Linked DNA regions of Homo sapiens. The protein of the gene in region 1 purifies or fractionates together with the protein of each later gene. This does not show direct contact. Each region holds a gene or a part of one and is shown in the gene's direction. Other genes may lie near its edges.

What was found. Proteins that work in one complex are often made in the same cells at the same time.
Region 2: the proteins of IFT140 (region 1) and TULP3 purify together in Homo sapiens (affinity purification with mass spectrometry; 6 studies listed by BioGRID and IntAct, with this or other methods). This does not show direct contact.

Annotation. Positions count from the first base shown.
Region 1 is NC_000016.10:1,602,051-1,609,075, reverse strand, and holds part of IFT140 (intraflagellar transport protein 140 homolog), read left to right. Parts: intron 1-879; exon of another isoform or gene 880-1,017; intron 1,018-1,778; 5' UTR 1,779-1,809; coding exon 1,810-1,956; intron 1,957-4,593; exon of another isoform or gene 4,594-4,661; intron 4,662-6,484; coding exon 6,485-6,706; intron 6,707-7,025. UniProt on the Homo sapiens protein: Component of the IFT complex A (IFT-A), a complex required for retrograde ciliary transport and entry into cilia of G protein-coupled receptors (GPCRs).
Region 2 is NC_000012.12:2,893,887-2,900,911, forward strand, and holds part of TULP3 (tubby-related protein 3), read left to right. Parts: intron 1-7,025. UniProt on the Homo sapiens protein: Negative regulator of the Shh signaling transduction pathway: recruited to primary cilia via association with the IFT complex A (IFT-A) and is required for recruitment of G protein-coupled receptor GPR161 to cilia, a promoter of PKA-dependent basal repression machinery in Shh signaling.

The DNA of each region.
Region 1 (7,025 bases):
TCAAGCGATTCTCATGTCTCAGCCTCCTGAGTAGCTGGGATTACAGGCAGGCACCACCACACCCAGCTAATTTTTGTATTTTTTAGTAGAGAAGAGGTTTCATCATGTTGTCCAGGATGGTCTCGATCTTCTGACCTTGTGATCCACCCGCCTCGGCCTCCCAAAGTGCTGGGATTACAGGCATGAGCCACCATGCCTGGCCAAAACTCATTTTAAGAGGTAATCCCAGCTACTTGGGAGACTGAGGCAGGAGGATCACTTGAGCCCAGGAGTTCAAGGCTACAGTGAGCCATGATCACACCACTGCTCTCCAGCCTGGGGGCCCTGTCTCTAAACAATATATATTTTTTAATTTAAAGGTTTCTTTTGCTATTTTAAATTGCCCAGGTTTTGATCTGGAGTGTTTGTTTGTTGTTCGGGTTTCTTTTTTTTTTTTTTTTTTTTGAGGCGGAGTCCTATTCTGTTGCCAGGCTGGAGTACAGTGGCGCGATCTCAGCTTACCGCAACCTCTGCCTCCCAGGTTCAAGTGATTCTCCTGTCTTAGGCTCCGGAGTAGCTGGAATTACAGGTGCCTGCCACCACACCTGGATAACCTTTTGTATTTTTAGTAGAGGCGGGTGGCGTTCGCCATTTTGCCCAGGCTGGTCTCGAACTCCTAAGCTCAGGCAATCTGCCCACCTCGGCCTCCCAAATTGCTAGGATTACAGGCATGAGCCTGTATAATTTTAAATGGTGGCAAACCCGGCTACAAGTATGTTCTTCTCTGCCAGTTAACTTCCCCAAATTGACTGAGGTGTAAAAAAGTGAGCAGTAACCAGACCGTCACTTTATTTATCACCCTAACCCGCCTGAAAAGGGACGATGTGTATATCTTTTCCAGATCTGAAAGGAAGAATGAAAGAGAGAGATTAAGTTCACGTAAGTGATCAAGCTCAACTTCTCACAGCTGCTGCGGCTGTGCATTCTTGACTCTCTAATAGAGGAAGACTTCTGTCTTCTACCACCTGTGAGTCAGAGGTAAAAGACAGTCTTTGATTTTATGCTTTATTGGAAATTCAGTACTGGTTTTTTTTCTGTACCAGTACTCTTTTCTGGAGCAGTTTGCATTTATTTTGTTTGAAAATGTTGTTTAAAAGGCAGTGGTGGCCCACGGCTGTAATCCCAGCACTTTGGGAGGCCAAGGCAGGAGGATTACCTGAGCCAGGGGTTCAAGACCAGCCTGGGCAACATAGTAAAACCTTGTGTCTACACAAATTACTTAAAAATTAGCTGGGCATGGTAGTGCATGTCTGTAGTCCCAGCTACTTGAGAGGCTGAGGTGGGAGGATCACTTGAGCCCAGGAGTTTGAGGCTGCAGTGAGCCGTGATCACACCACTGCACTCCAGCCTGGGTGACAGAGCAAGACTTGGTCTAAAAAGTTAAAGGGAACTACAGAAATAGAACTTGTCCTTATTGTGACTGGAATGAAAGTTACTGAGGATTGCGTGTGTAGTTAGGCTGCAGGCCTTTTCTTTCTTTCCTCCTTTGATGGCCATGAGTTGTATTCGTTTCTGTCACAGCCTGGGTGATTCCGGGTCTAACTGCTTCTCTTCTGCATGTCTCCCTGTTGGAGATCTCCTCGCATCAGGTTGCCTGCTCAGTCCGCAAGGCATTTTCAAGTTGCCGATGGTCTTCCGATGGTGGCTTTGGGATGCTTCCTTTTCGTCATTCCATGTACAGTCATATTGTTTGTTTTATTTAAAACTGATTGGACTTGGTCATTTTTTTTTCCCTGCAGGTTTCAGCGCTGAGGAGGCCTGAGTTCCGTCATGGCCCTCTATTATGACCACCAGATAGAAGCCCCGGATGCAGCAGGGTCACCCTCATTTATCAGCTGGCACCCTGTCCATCCATTCTTGGCAGTTGCTTACATCAGCACAACCTCAACAGGCAGCGTGGATATTTACCTGGAGCAAGTGAGTGCTCAGAAGCAAGGAGCCTGACTGTGGTAGCTTCTGGCTCATGTTGTTTGTGTTGCTGTTGTCCTTGTGTGTGTGCACATGTGTGTGTGTGCCTATGGGTGTGTGTGTGTATACATGCATCTGTGTGTGCGTGTATGTGTATTGGTGTGTGTATGCGCATATGTATGTCTGCATCTGTGTGTGTGTGCGCACACGTGGGTGTGTGCATATGGGTGTGTGTGTGCATCTGTATGCTTGTATGTGGGGGGGTGTATGCGTGTGTGTGCACACGTGTGTGTGTGTGCGTGTGGTGCGTGTGTGTATTTTCAAACGAACTCTACTCTAGCTTATTCATGAAGAAAACGACATCTATGAGGCCAGGCGCAGTGGCTCACGCCTGTAATCCCAGCACTTTGGGAGGCCGAGGTGGGTGGATCACTTGAGGTTAGGGGTTCGAGACCAGCCTGATCAACATGGAGAAACCCCATCTCTACTAAAAATACAAAATTAGCCGGGCATGGTGGCTCATGCTTGTAATCCCAGCTACTCGGGAGGCTGAGGCAGGAGAATCGCTTGAACCCAGGAGGCAGGGGTTGCAGTGAGCGGCGATCACGCCATTGCGCTCCAGCCTGGGCAACAAAAGCAAAACTCTGTCTCAGAAAAGAAAAAAAAGAAAACGACATCCGTCATCAGTTTTCACAGAGGCCAAATCCCAGGGTTATAAAAGCCCTAGTATGTGGGCAGTTCTTTCACGCTGGCTATTTTGGTGGCTTGGGGACATGTTTAGGAATCCTTCATGCTTATCAGCATTAAGCCACTATCAGTTCACAGTCATCACCAGAAATGTCCCCACAGTGCTGTTTGTGGATCCTGAGGCATCTTCCTCTGTCAGTGCCCTCCTGCACGCTCCATAGGGGCCATTTGGAACTCTAATCATTTCCACAAACTGGGTGGCTTTAAACAACAGGAAGGTATTCTGGCAGCTCTGGAGGCGAGAACTCCAAAATCAGGTGTCAGCAGGGCCCGCTGGCTCTGAAGGCTGAGGGGAGTGTCTGCCCCGAGCTGCTGTCCTGCTCCTGCTGTTCCCAGCAAGCCTTGGTGCTCCCTGGCTGGCAGATGCGCTGCTCCAGCCCTGCCTCTGGTGTCATCCGGCCTTCCCTTCTGTATGTCTGCGTCTCTTCTCCTCTTCCTAAAAGGACATCAGGCATATGTAACTAGGGCCTGCTCTAATGACCTCACCTGAGCTTACCCACATCTGCAAAGACCCTGTTTCCAAAGGACGCCATGTCACAAGGACCAGGGATAGGACTTCCACATATCTTTGTGGGGACACAATTCACCCCCTAACAGAAACGTTCCCCAAGCTCCTCAGACTTCGATAATCACCCTCTCGGTGCCCAGTGCACCTCATATTCCATAAAGAAAATGAGGTGCCAGGTGCGGTGGCTCACGCCTGTAATCCCAACACTTTGGGAGGCCGGGGTGGGTGGATCATGAGGTCAGGAGATCAAGACCATCCTGGCTAACACGGTGAAACCCCGTCTCCACTAAAAATACAAGAATTAGCCGGGCGTGGTGGCGGGCACCTGTAGTCCCAGCTACTCAGGAGGCTGAGGCAGGAGAATGGCATGAACCCAGGAGGCAGAGCTTGCTGTGAGCCGAGATCACGCCACTGCACTCCAGCCTGGGCAACAGAGTGAGACTCCATCTCAAAAAATATAAATAAATAAGAAAATGAGGTTTCCTCCTCTACTCACTCTTCAGCCCTCTGCAGGCTCCCTATTGCCACCACAACTTCACCCAAGCAGCGACAGTCATCAGTTGCTTCTAGGTGTCACCCCCTGAGTGTTTTGGGGTCCTTGTCTGTACCACACTCCTGTGAAGTCCTCTGGGAAACATGCCCGAGAGCGCAGGGGTAGGGCGTTCCCTGCCCGGCCTCCATGGCTTTGCCAGCTCTTCCTCCATTTCCAGCTTGTGAGCACCATGGCCTTCTGCAGAGCTTGGTCAGGGCTCCTCTCCATTTCTTCCTTCTCCTGTGATCTGAGCATCCCCAGTGGCTTGCAGACATACATCTCCTGCCTAGAAGTTCCCTCTGAGCTGTAAGCTTAGGGACCCAGCTGCCTTCCTGACATCTCTAGGGTGTTTCAAGGAGACCTCAGACTGTACAAAACTGAACTGAAATTGTCCCCCACCCTTCCCCTGCCTCATATCTCCTGCTCACTGAGATGGGCACCTCCCATCTCAATGAAAGTCACCCCCTTTATCCTGGTTTCTAGAACAAGAACCTGGGCATGACTGTTGACATTTCCCACTCCCCTACCTTGTAATCCATCACTAGATCCTCCCAGTTTCTCCCCCGGAACCTCTGGCGAGTCTGCTGCTGCTTGCCCTTCCAACCGCCCTTCCCTCCTCCAGGTTCCCATCCCCCTCTCCTGGACACCAGTACAGCTTCCTACTGTGGCAGCTGTGCCCTCACAGGCCTCCTCTACTTTACACGGCAACCAGGCCTGGCCTGTCTTGGCATCACAGATGGAATCACTCCCTGCTCCCACCTCCCCGGCCCTGTGCTGCTCTTTGGGTGAACATGGAGTCCCTGATGTGGCCCCTAGCGCCTCCCAGGTCTGGCTCTGTCACCTGTCACATCAGGCTCACCTTCCTTGATGCTGACACAGCCTTGCACAGCCTTCCTCGGCCTTCCAGCCCTGCACATGCTGTGCCACCTGCAAAGAAGACACTCCTTCATCCATTTTTGTAATTAATGCATTAATCCTTCAGGTGAAAGTGGCTAAGTGGCCCCTTAGGAACTGCTCCCCCCTCCACACACACACACACACACACACACACACACACACACACACACGCCCTTGCAGCGCGATGCAGCGCTGGTCAGCGGCTCCCCTGTTGCCAGCAGGCTCCTCCATATACTGGCAGCTTTGCGAAGGCCGTGCCAGACTTAGGGCTCAGTCCAGCCCCAGCACCAACCCCACTTTTGCCCATTTTTTTGGGTAGATTCTCCCTTGCAGGAGCCTATAACATATATGGTAAATGGGATATTTTTTAAAATAAATATTATTAAATTCCAAAGTTATAGCAATTTTAGGTAAAATTTTTAAATTTAGAAGATCTAAAGCATACTATTATAAAACTAGTCAATAGCATATTTCTGTGTTTCCAGTTGGCACAAGGAAAACTTCAGGATTTCAAAATAGTGATCTATTGGACAATGATGAGATCACAGAAGATGGCTCCTAAGCCCAGTGGAACAACTGGGGGCAAACCAAGTTAATCTCTGAAAACGCACTTATATCTTCCCCAAAGCTGCTGCTTTAGAAAATTTTAGAAAACACAGCACATGGCCGGGCACGGTGGCTCACGCCTGTAATCCCTGCACTTTGGGAGGCCGAGGCGGGCAGATCATGAAGTCAGGAGTTTGAGACCAGCCTGGCCAATATGATGAAACACTGTCTCTACTAAAAATACAAAAATTAGCTGGGCTTGGTGGCGCGCCTGTAGTCTCAGCTACTTGGGAGGCTGAGGCAGGAGAATCGCTTGAACCTTGGAGGCGGAGGTTGCGGTGAGCTCAGATCATGCCACTGCAGCACTCCAGCCTGGGCTACAGAGTGAGAATCCATCTCAGAAAAAAAAAAAGAGGAAACGCAGCACATATCTCACAAGCTGTCATTAGTGACATCACCACATCACACAGCCTTTGAAAAGCTCCACTGTAGACGCGTGAAAGAAGGAGAGTATGAATGGCACTAACCTGTCACTATTATTCTGAAAATAATTTTCACCTTTCAGATCCCTGAAAGGGTCCTGGGGTCTCTGGACAACACTTTGAGATCCCTGGGGCCACAAACCTCACCTGCTGGCTCGCTGGTGGTTTTTGTAGATAAGGTTTTAGGGAACCCAGCCACGCACTAAAATGCGTGCCAGCCATCCAGCAGCCATGGGGAGGAGGTGGCACATCATGACAAGGTGGCACTCCATGAGAAGCTGGTCGGGGTTGCCAGCTGAGCACAAGTTACCTTCTGCTTTGGTAGCTCAGCTAGGGGCAAGGTTGGTGCGTTTTTATGAAAAATTAAAGAGTCTACTGAGAACATTGCCCCATTGCCTTAATAGCTTTTGTACCTTGTCGCCAATGTGGAGTCCACAGATCACACAGAAGTTTTGTTTGTTTGTTTGTTTGTTTTTGGAGACAGAGTCTTGCTCTGTCGCCCAGGCTGGAGTGCAGTGGTGCGATCTGGGCTCGCTGCAACCTCTGCCTCCTGGGTTCAAGCAATTCTCCTGCCTTAGCCTCCCGAGTAGCTGGGACTACAGACGCCCGCCATCACACCTGGCTAATTTTTGTATTTTTAGTAGAGACGGAGTTTCACCAAATTGGCCCAGCTGGTCTCGAACTCCTGACTTTGTGATCCACCCACCTCAGCCTCCCAAAGTGCTGTAATTACAGGAGTGAGCCGCCGTGCCCGGCCTAGACAGAAGTTCTTAAAAGTAGCTGTCCCTCTCTGAACTGTGGGAATTTGCCTCTCATCCAATGCAGGGGGAGTGCGTGCCAGATACACACGTCGAGAGGCCGTTCCGGGTTGCTTCCCTGTGCTGGCACCCGACGCGGCTGGTGCTGGCTGTGGGCTGGGAGACTGGAGAAGTGACGGTGTTTAACAAGCAGGACAAGGAGCAGCACACGATGCCCCTGACACACACAGCCGACATCACCGTGCTCCGTTGGAGCCCCAGTGGAAACTGCCTGCTGTCTGGGGACAGGGTGAGTCAACACGCGCAAGACGCTGTTTTCAGACCTTGACCCTTTCTGACCATGCTCGAGAGTATGAAAGATCAAAATATGGGAACCGTGCTGTTGCCAAATTCAGTTGATCTTGTCAGATGCAATTGTAGATTTTGTTTTATATTGGAAGCAAGGCTTGAAAATTTGCCACTCTGTGGCAAAGGTGTGTCTGCACCTTTATAAATGAACTTTGCTGGGAAACTGCATTCGTAAAGATACGTGCCCAGATACTGTCACTTTTCCCTAGGCCTGTTTGTCTAGCTCAGGGCTTCTTAACCAGGGTTGGTTCTGCCCCCCA
Region 2 (7,025 bases), on another chromosome or scaffold:
TCCTGCCTCAGCCTCCCAAAGTGCTGGGATTACAGGTGTGAGCGACCAGGCTTGGCCTATTTTCTTATATCAGAAATGTTTAGTGAAAATTGGAGGTGAAATTTGAAACAACACTCAGGACCTTTGTTGAGGCTAGGCATTTTATAATATAGATTCCCTGGAGATGACGGGGGTTGGCTGGTGCTGGAACTTGAGCCCTATCTGGCCTTTTGTAAGTGATAGAGAATTGAGAATTGAAGGCGTGCTTCCCACTGTGGTGTGACCTTGTGAGCTGGAGTCATCTAAGAAATCCCAGTCGGTGGTTTGTCCATATACCATGATTTCTCTTTAGAAATATAAACAGTAGGCTGGGCATGGTGGCTCACACTTGTAATCCCAGCACCATGGGAGGCCGAGATGGCGGGGGGGCGGGGCGGGGGGGGGGAAATCACCTGAGGTCACGAGTTCAAGACCAGCCTGACCAACATGGAGAAACCCTATCTCTACTAAAAATGCAAAACTTAGCCAGGCATGGTGGCAGGTGCCTATAATCTTAGCTACTCAGGAGCTGAGGCAGGAGAATCGCTTGAACCAGGGAGGTGGAGGTTGCAGTGAGCCAAGACTGTGCCACTGCACTCTAGCCTGGGTGACAGAGCAAGACTCCGTCTCAAAAACACACACACACACACACACACACACACGCACGCACACAAAAAAGAGATCTGTCAAGATAAAAAGCTCAATAATAGGCTAGGTGCAGTGGCTCATGCCTGTAATCCCAGCACTTTGGGAGGCGGAGGTGGGCAGATCACGAGGTCAGGAGTTCAAGACCAGCCCAACCAACATGGCGAAACCCTGTCTCTACTAAAAATACAAAAATTAGCCAGTTATGGTGGTGTGTGCGTATAGTCCCAGCTACTCCGGGAACTGAGGCAGAAGAATTGTTTGAACCTGGGAGGCGGAGGTTGCGGTGAGCCGAGATCACACCACTGCACTCCAGCCTGGGCGACAAGAGCAAAACTCCATTTGAAAAATAAAATAAAATGAAATAAAAATAAGAAATAGTGAAAATAAATAACATTCCCGAAGAGAGAAAATATAACCCCTGAGAAGGGAGAATTGGGCAAAAGTTAAAACGAACTTAAGTTCTGAGTAATGTCTGTTTGAATCTACAAGTAATAAATGCATTCTTTTAACTTCTGGATTAAATCATACATCTTAAATAGCCTTTTTGTTTAGTTCACTCAAAAGAATGCTTTTTGCTTTTGCTGTGTGGTACTTGCAAAATCAGGAGGGGTTTACTCTAAAATAGTTTTCCCTGCAGCATTCTTTGGGGCTATGGGAATGCTCAAATCAGCGGCCAGCCTTTGCTTCTCATTGCCTCCCTCTCCCCAGGCAGTTCTCCCTGCTCTGATTGTGTCTCTACTAAATGGGCCTCCTAGGAAATGGATGTTCATTCCCTGGCTTCAATTAAGTTAGCTCCAGATTGTGGCCGTCTTTCAAGTAGAGGACAGCTGAGCTTAGAATACTAACATTTCTCCCTAGATGAGGAAGGATAGATGTCAAAGGAATTCTTTTCTGACACTTCTCATATGACCTTTATGTGTCTTTTCTCAGAAGCAATATTTTGTTCAAGCCAGATGTGTTCTTGGTGTGTCAGTATGTGTAAAAACATGGCCTTCGAATATTGACATTTAGGATTTGGACAAGGTGAACCTATTTGTCAATTGAGTTAGGAAACATACTTTGTTAATAGCTCTTTCCACAATTATCTGAAATTGTTATCAGTTTGAACATGATGAAATCTGATGCCTCTTTCACTCTATACAGTTATTTGCCACTTAATGATGGGGATGCATTCTGAGAAATGTGTCATTAGTGGATTTTGTTGTGTGAACGTCATAGTGTACACAAACCTTGATGGGATATCCTACTACCTACCTAGGCCCTGTGGTACAGTCTGTTGCTCCTAGGCTACAAAGCTATACAGCCTGTTACTGTACTGAATATTGTAGGCAATTGGAACACACTGGTAAGTATTAGCATATCTAAACATAGCAAAGGTACAGTGAGAATACTTTTTTTTTTTTTTGAGACGGAGTCGCATCTTTGTTACTCAGGCTGGAGTGCAATGGCATGATCTCGGCTCACTGCAATCTCTGCCTCCCAGGTTCAAGTGATTCTCCTGCCTCAGCCTCCCAAGTAGTTGGGATTACAGGCGTGCACCACCATGCCCAGCTAATTTTGTATTTTTAGTAGAAACGGGGTTTTACCATGTTGGTCAAACTGGTCTTGAACTCCTGACCTCAAGTGATCCACCCGCCTCTGCCTCCCAAAGTGCTGGGATTACAGGCGTGAGCCACTGTGCCTGGCTGACAATGTGGTGTTATCATCTTAGGGGACCCCTGTTGTATATGCAGTATGGTTGACCTAAATGTCGTTATTCAGGGCACTCCTCCCCAGGGCTGCTTAAAAATCCATTCACTGGCTTGGAAGTTCTACCTAAAAATAGCAAGTCAGCTGGCATTTTTAATGAACATATTGAAATACCAGAGAATGAAATTCCTGTCTCTGCTGACCATTTTAATACACGTGTTCAGTCGTGTGGTTTAACACATTCAGGTAGATTGGGAGTGAGACTTGTGATTGAATTTGGGCTCTTTCGCTGATCAGCTGTTTGACCTTTAGAATATGAACTATAGTTGTAAGTTTAAAATTGCTTTCCTGTGATGTGTAGAAAATAAGGCTGTAACAAAGCAAGAAATATTTTTCAAATATGCTCCTGGAAAAATAAAATTATTGCTATTTAGCTTTGCAGGAAGAAACTTCAATAAATCTACAAGGTAGGTGCTATAATCTCATTTTACAGAGAGATATGAAACTCATATGAAAGGAGTTCACCTCCTTTCTCCCGAAATTCATTTAGAGCATCTATGAGTTTCATATCTGTCTGTAAAATGAGATTATAGTGCCTACTTTGTCAAGGTTATCGTGAAAATTATCACACATCATATGTGAAAAATAATATATATTTAATATAATTCCTGGCAGGCAGTATTAAATATTCACTAAGTAGAACTGTACTTAAGTGCAACTAGCAGAGTGACAACACATTTTAACAATGTTTCAATAACAATACAATTTTGGACTTTTAAATTTTTTTTTTGGAGTCTCGCTCTGTCGCCTAGGCTGGAGTGCAGTGGCAGGATCTCGGCTCATGGCAACCTCCACCTCCTGGGTTCAAGCAGTTCTCCCTGCCTCAGCCTCCTGAGTAGGTAGGATTACAGGTGCCTGCCACCACCCCTGGCTAATTTTTGTATTTTTAGTAGGGACAGGATTTCACCATGTTGGCCAGGCTGGTCTCGAACCCCTTACCTCAGGTGATGCACCTGCCTCGGCCTCCTAAAGTACTGGGATTACAGGCATGAGCCACTACGCCCAGCCTAAAGATTTTTTTAATACAGGGGAAATTATTAGAAATTTCTGGGTTTCCAACATTCGAAAGCTTTTGAAAGGTGATAAAGTATTATGATGAAATCATTAGTCTTCTCACTGAAGTGAAGATTAAGGTAACACATTCATTTGTAGTATTAAGAAGTATTGTAAAACAAAAATCTTCCCAGGCACAGTGGTTCAGGCCTATAATCCTAGCACTTAGGGAGGCTGAGGCAGGAGGAAGGAGATCACTTGAGGCCAGTAGCTCAAGACCAGCCTGGGCAACATAGTGAGACCCCCTGTCTGTCTGTTGGTCTGTCATGTTCGTTTGTTCTCTCTCTCAAGACATAGGGTCTTGCTGTATTGCCCAGGCTAGTCTTGAACTCGGGCCTCAAGTGATTCTCCCACCTCGGCCTCCCAAAATGCTGGAAAGGCATGAGCCACTCTGCCTGGCCCGAGACCCTGTCTCTTAAAAAAAAAAAAAAAAAAAATTCTAGGCCCAGTGCGGTGGCTCATGCCTGTAATCCCAGCACTTTGGGAGGGCAAGGCAGGCAGATCACCTGAGGTTAGGAGTTAGAGACCAGCCTGGGCAGCATGGTGAAACCCTGTCTCTACTAAAAATACAAAATTAGCCAGGTGTGGTGGCGCATGCCTGTGATCCCAGCTACTTGGGAGGCTGAGGCATGAGAATCACTTGAACATGGGAGGCAGAGGTTATAGTGAGCCAAGATCGCGCCATTGCACTCCAGCCTGGGCAACAAGAGCGGAAACTAGATCTCAAAAAAAAAAAAAAAAAAAGATATAATAGCAGTTGCAGTTTGAGTGCTTACTATGAGCCAAGTTTCATTTAATCTTCACAATAACCTTCTGAGTTAAGTGTCATTGTCCTCACTTTGTAAATTAGGAAACTTGAGGCTTTACTAGGTTAAGTTGTACTGGGAACTGTGCTGTAACCACATAGCACACGTCTCTAAATGGGGACTTACAATTAGTTTGAACTAATATAGGCCAAGCCAGGGGTCAGCAGACCTTTTTAATTATTTTTTTTCAGATGGGGTCTTGCTTTGTTGCCCAAGCTGGTCTTGAACTGCTGGACTTAAGCCATCTTCCCGCCTCAGCCTCCCTAGCAGCGGGGACTATAGGCATGCACCATCACCCCTGGCCAGTAGTCCTTTTCTGCGAAGGTCTTAACCAAACGTTTTTGGTTTTGTGGGCCATACAGTCTCTGTCCCAGTTGCTCATTACTCAGTTTTGCTGTTGTAGCACAAAAGCAGCCATAGATAATAGGTAAGTGAATGAATGTGTCTATTTCAATAAGACTTTATGGACACTGGAATTTGAAGACTTTTTTCTTTTTATTCATTACTTCCTGCACAGTGATAATTTCTTTTGGGCTGGGGGGACAGGTTCTCACTATGTGCCCAGGCTGAGTGCAGTGGTGCAGTCGTAGCCCACAACAGCCTTGAACTCCTGGGTTCAAGCAGTCCTCCTTCCTCTGCCTCCTGAGTAGCTGGGATTACAGGTGTGCACCACCACACCTGGCTAATTTTTAAATTTTTTGTAGAGACGGGTCTCACTATGTTGCCCAGGCTGGTCTCAAACTCCTGGCCTCAAGCAGTCTGCCCACATAGGCATCGCAAAGTGCTGGGATGACAGGCATGAGTCACTGCACCTGGTTGGAATTTGAATTTAATATAATTTTTACATGTCTCAAAATATTATTCTTCAGATATTTTTAACCTTTTAAAAATGTGAAATTCATAGGCTGGGCACAGTGGCTCACGCCTGTAATCCCAGCACTTTGAGAGGCTCATGCGGGTGGGTCACCTGAGGTCAGGAGTTAGAGACCAGCCTGACCAACATGGAGAAACCATGTATCTACTAAAAATACAAAATTAGCCGGGCATGGTGGCCCATGCCTGTAATCCCAGCTACTCGGGAGGCTGAGGCAGGAGAATCGCTTGAACCCAGGAGGCTGAGGTTGTGGTGAGCTGAGATCACGCCATTGCAATCCAGCCTGGGCAACAAGAGCGAAACGACGTCTCAAAAAAAAAAAAAAAAAAACAGCGAAATTCATTCTTAGCTCAAAGGCAGTACAAAAACTGACGGCAGGCCAGATTTGGCCCACACGCTATAGTTTGCAGCCCCTGTGCTAAATCATAAAAGTATTTTTTCCTGGAAGGTCATAGTTATTCATACTGTGAATATTATTTAAGAGAGCATTGAAGATTGTTTTTATATTAAAATGGAACCCGTTACCTTATGGAATAAAACCCAGAATTTAATTTTCAAGATAAAACTTGGAGGCGGGGGCCGGGCGTGGTGGCTCACGCCTGTAATCCCAGCACTTTGGGAGGCCAAGGTGGGCGGATCACGAGGTCAGAAGTTCGAGACCATCCTGGCTAACACAGTGAAACCCTGTCTCTACTAAAAATACAAAAAATTAGCCGGGTGTGGTGGCAGGTGCCTGTAGTCTTAGTTACTCGGGAGGCTGAGGCAGGAGAATGGCATGAACCCAGGAGGCGGAGCTTGCAGTGAGCAGAGCTCATGCCACTGCACTCCAGCCTGGGCGACAGAGCGAGACTCCGTCTCAAAAAAAAAACAAACAAAAAAAAAAACAAAAAAAACTTGGAGACGGCTGTGGTGGCTCACATCTGTAATCCCAGCACTTTGGGAGGTTGAGGCAGGCGCGTCACCTGAGATCACGAGTTCGAGACTAGCCTGGCCAATGTGTTGGAACCCCGTCTCTACTAAAAATACAAAAAAAATAAAAAATTAACCAGGCGTGGTCGCACTCCTGTGTTCCCAGCTACAGGGGAGGCTGAGGCAGGAGAATAGCTTGAACCTGGGAGGAAGAGGTTGTAGTGAGCCGAGATCGCGCCACTGTACTCCAGCCTAGCGACAGAGCAAGACTCTGTCTCAGAAACAAAAACAAAAAAACTTGGATTCTAAAGATACGTTGTTCTGTAGATGGTCTCTGGACCGTACTTTCCTCCTTTCTCCTCAATTTCATTTAGAGCATAAAAGCACTTTCTTAGGCTGTTTGAAGCACTTGGATTGGAAATGTTGCCTGCAGTAACCTGTATAAACATCAATATATCAATAACAGATTATTAGTGCAAAATTTAAATGTCCAAAAACTGAAAGGGAATAATGATCGGTGACTGGGTCTATGAAATTACAAAAGTAAAGCCTAAGGGAGATGGCAAGCTTTCCTATTCTGCTACCCTTGTCAGCTGATGTCTTGGTAGAATTAATAAAGTACTCTTTTTAAACTCAAAAACATCTGTTTTGAATAATACTTTTTTTTTTAACACCCTACCTTTGAGGTAACTATTGTTAATAGTTTGTGTATATCCTTCTGGAATTCTTCTATTCCTGTAGACCTTGCAGATACTTTTTTTTTTTCTACTTGCAGTTATTTTTATTTTTTGTTTTTTGAGAGTGTCTTGCTCTCTCACCCTGGCTGGAGTGTGGCGGTGTGACGATAGCTCAACCTCCTGGGCTCAAGCAATCCTCCCACCTCAGCCTCCCAAGTAGCTGGAACTATAGGCATGCGCAACCAAGCCGAAATACTTTTTTTTTTTTTTTTTTTGTAGAGACGGTTTCAC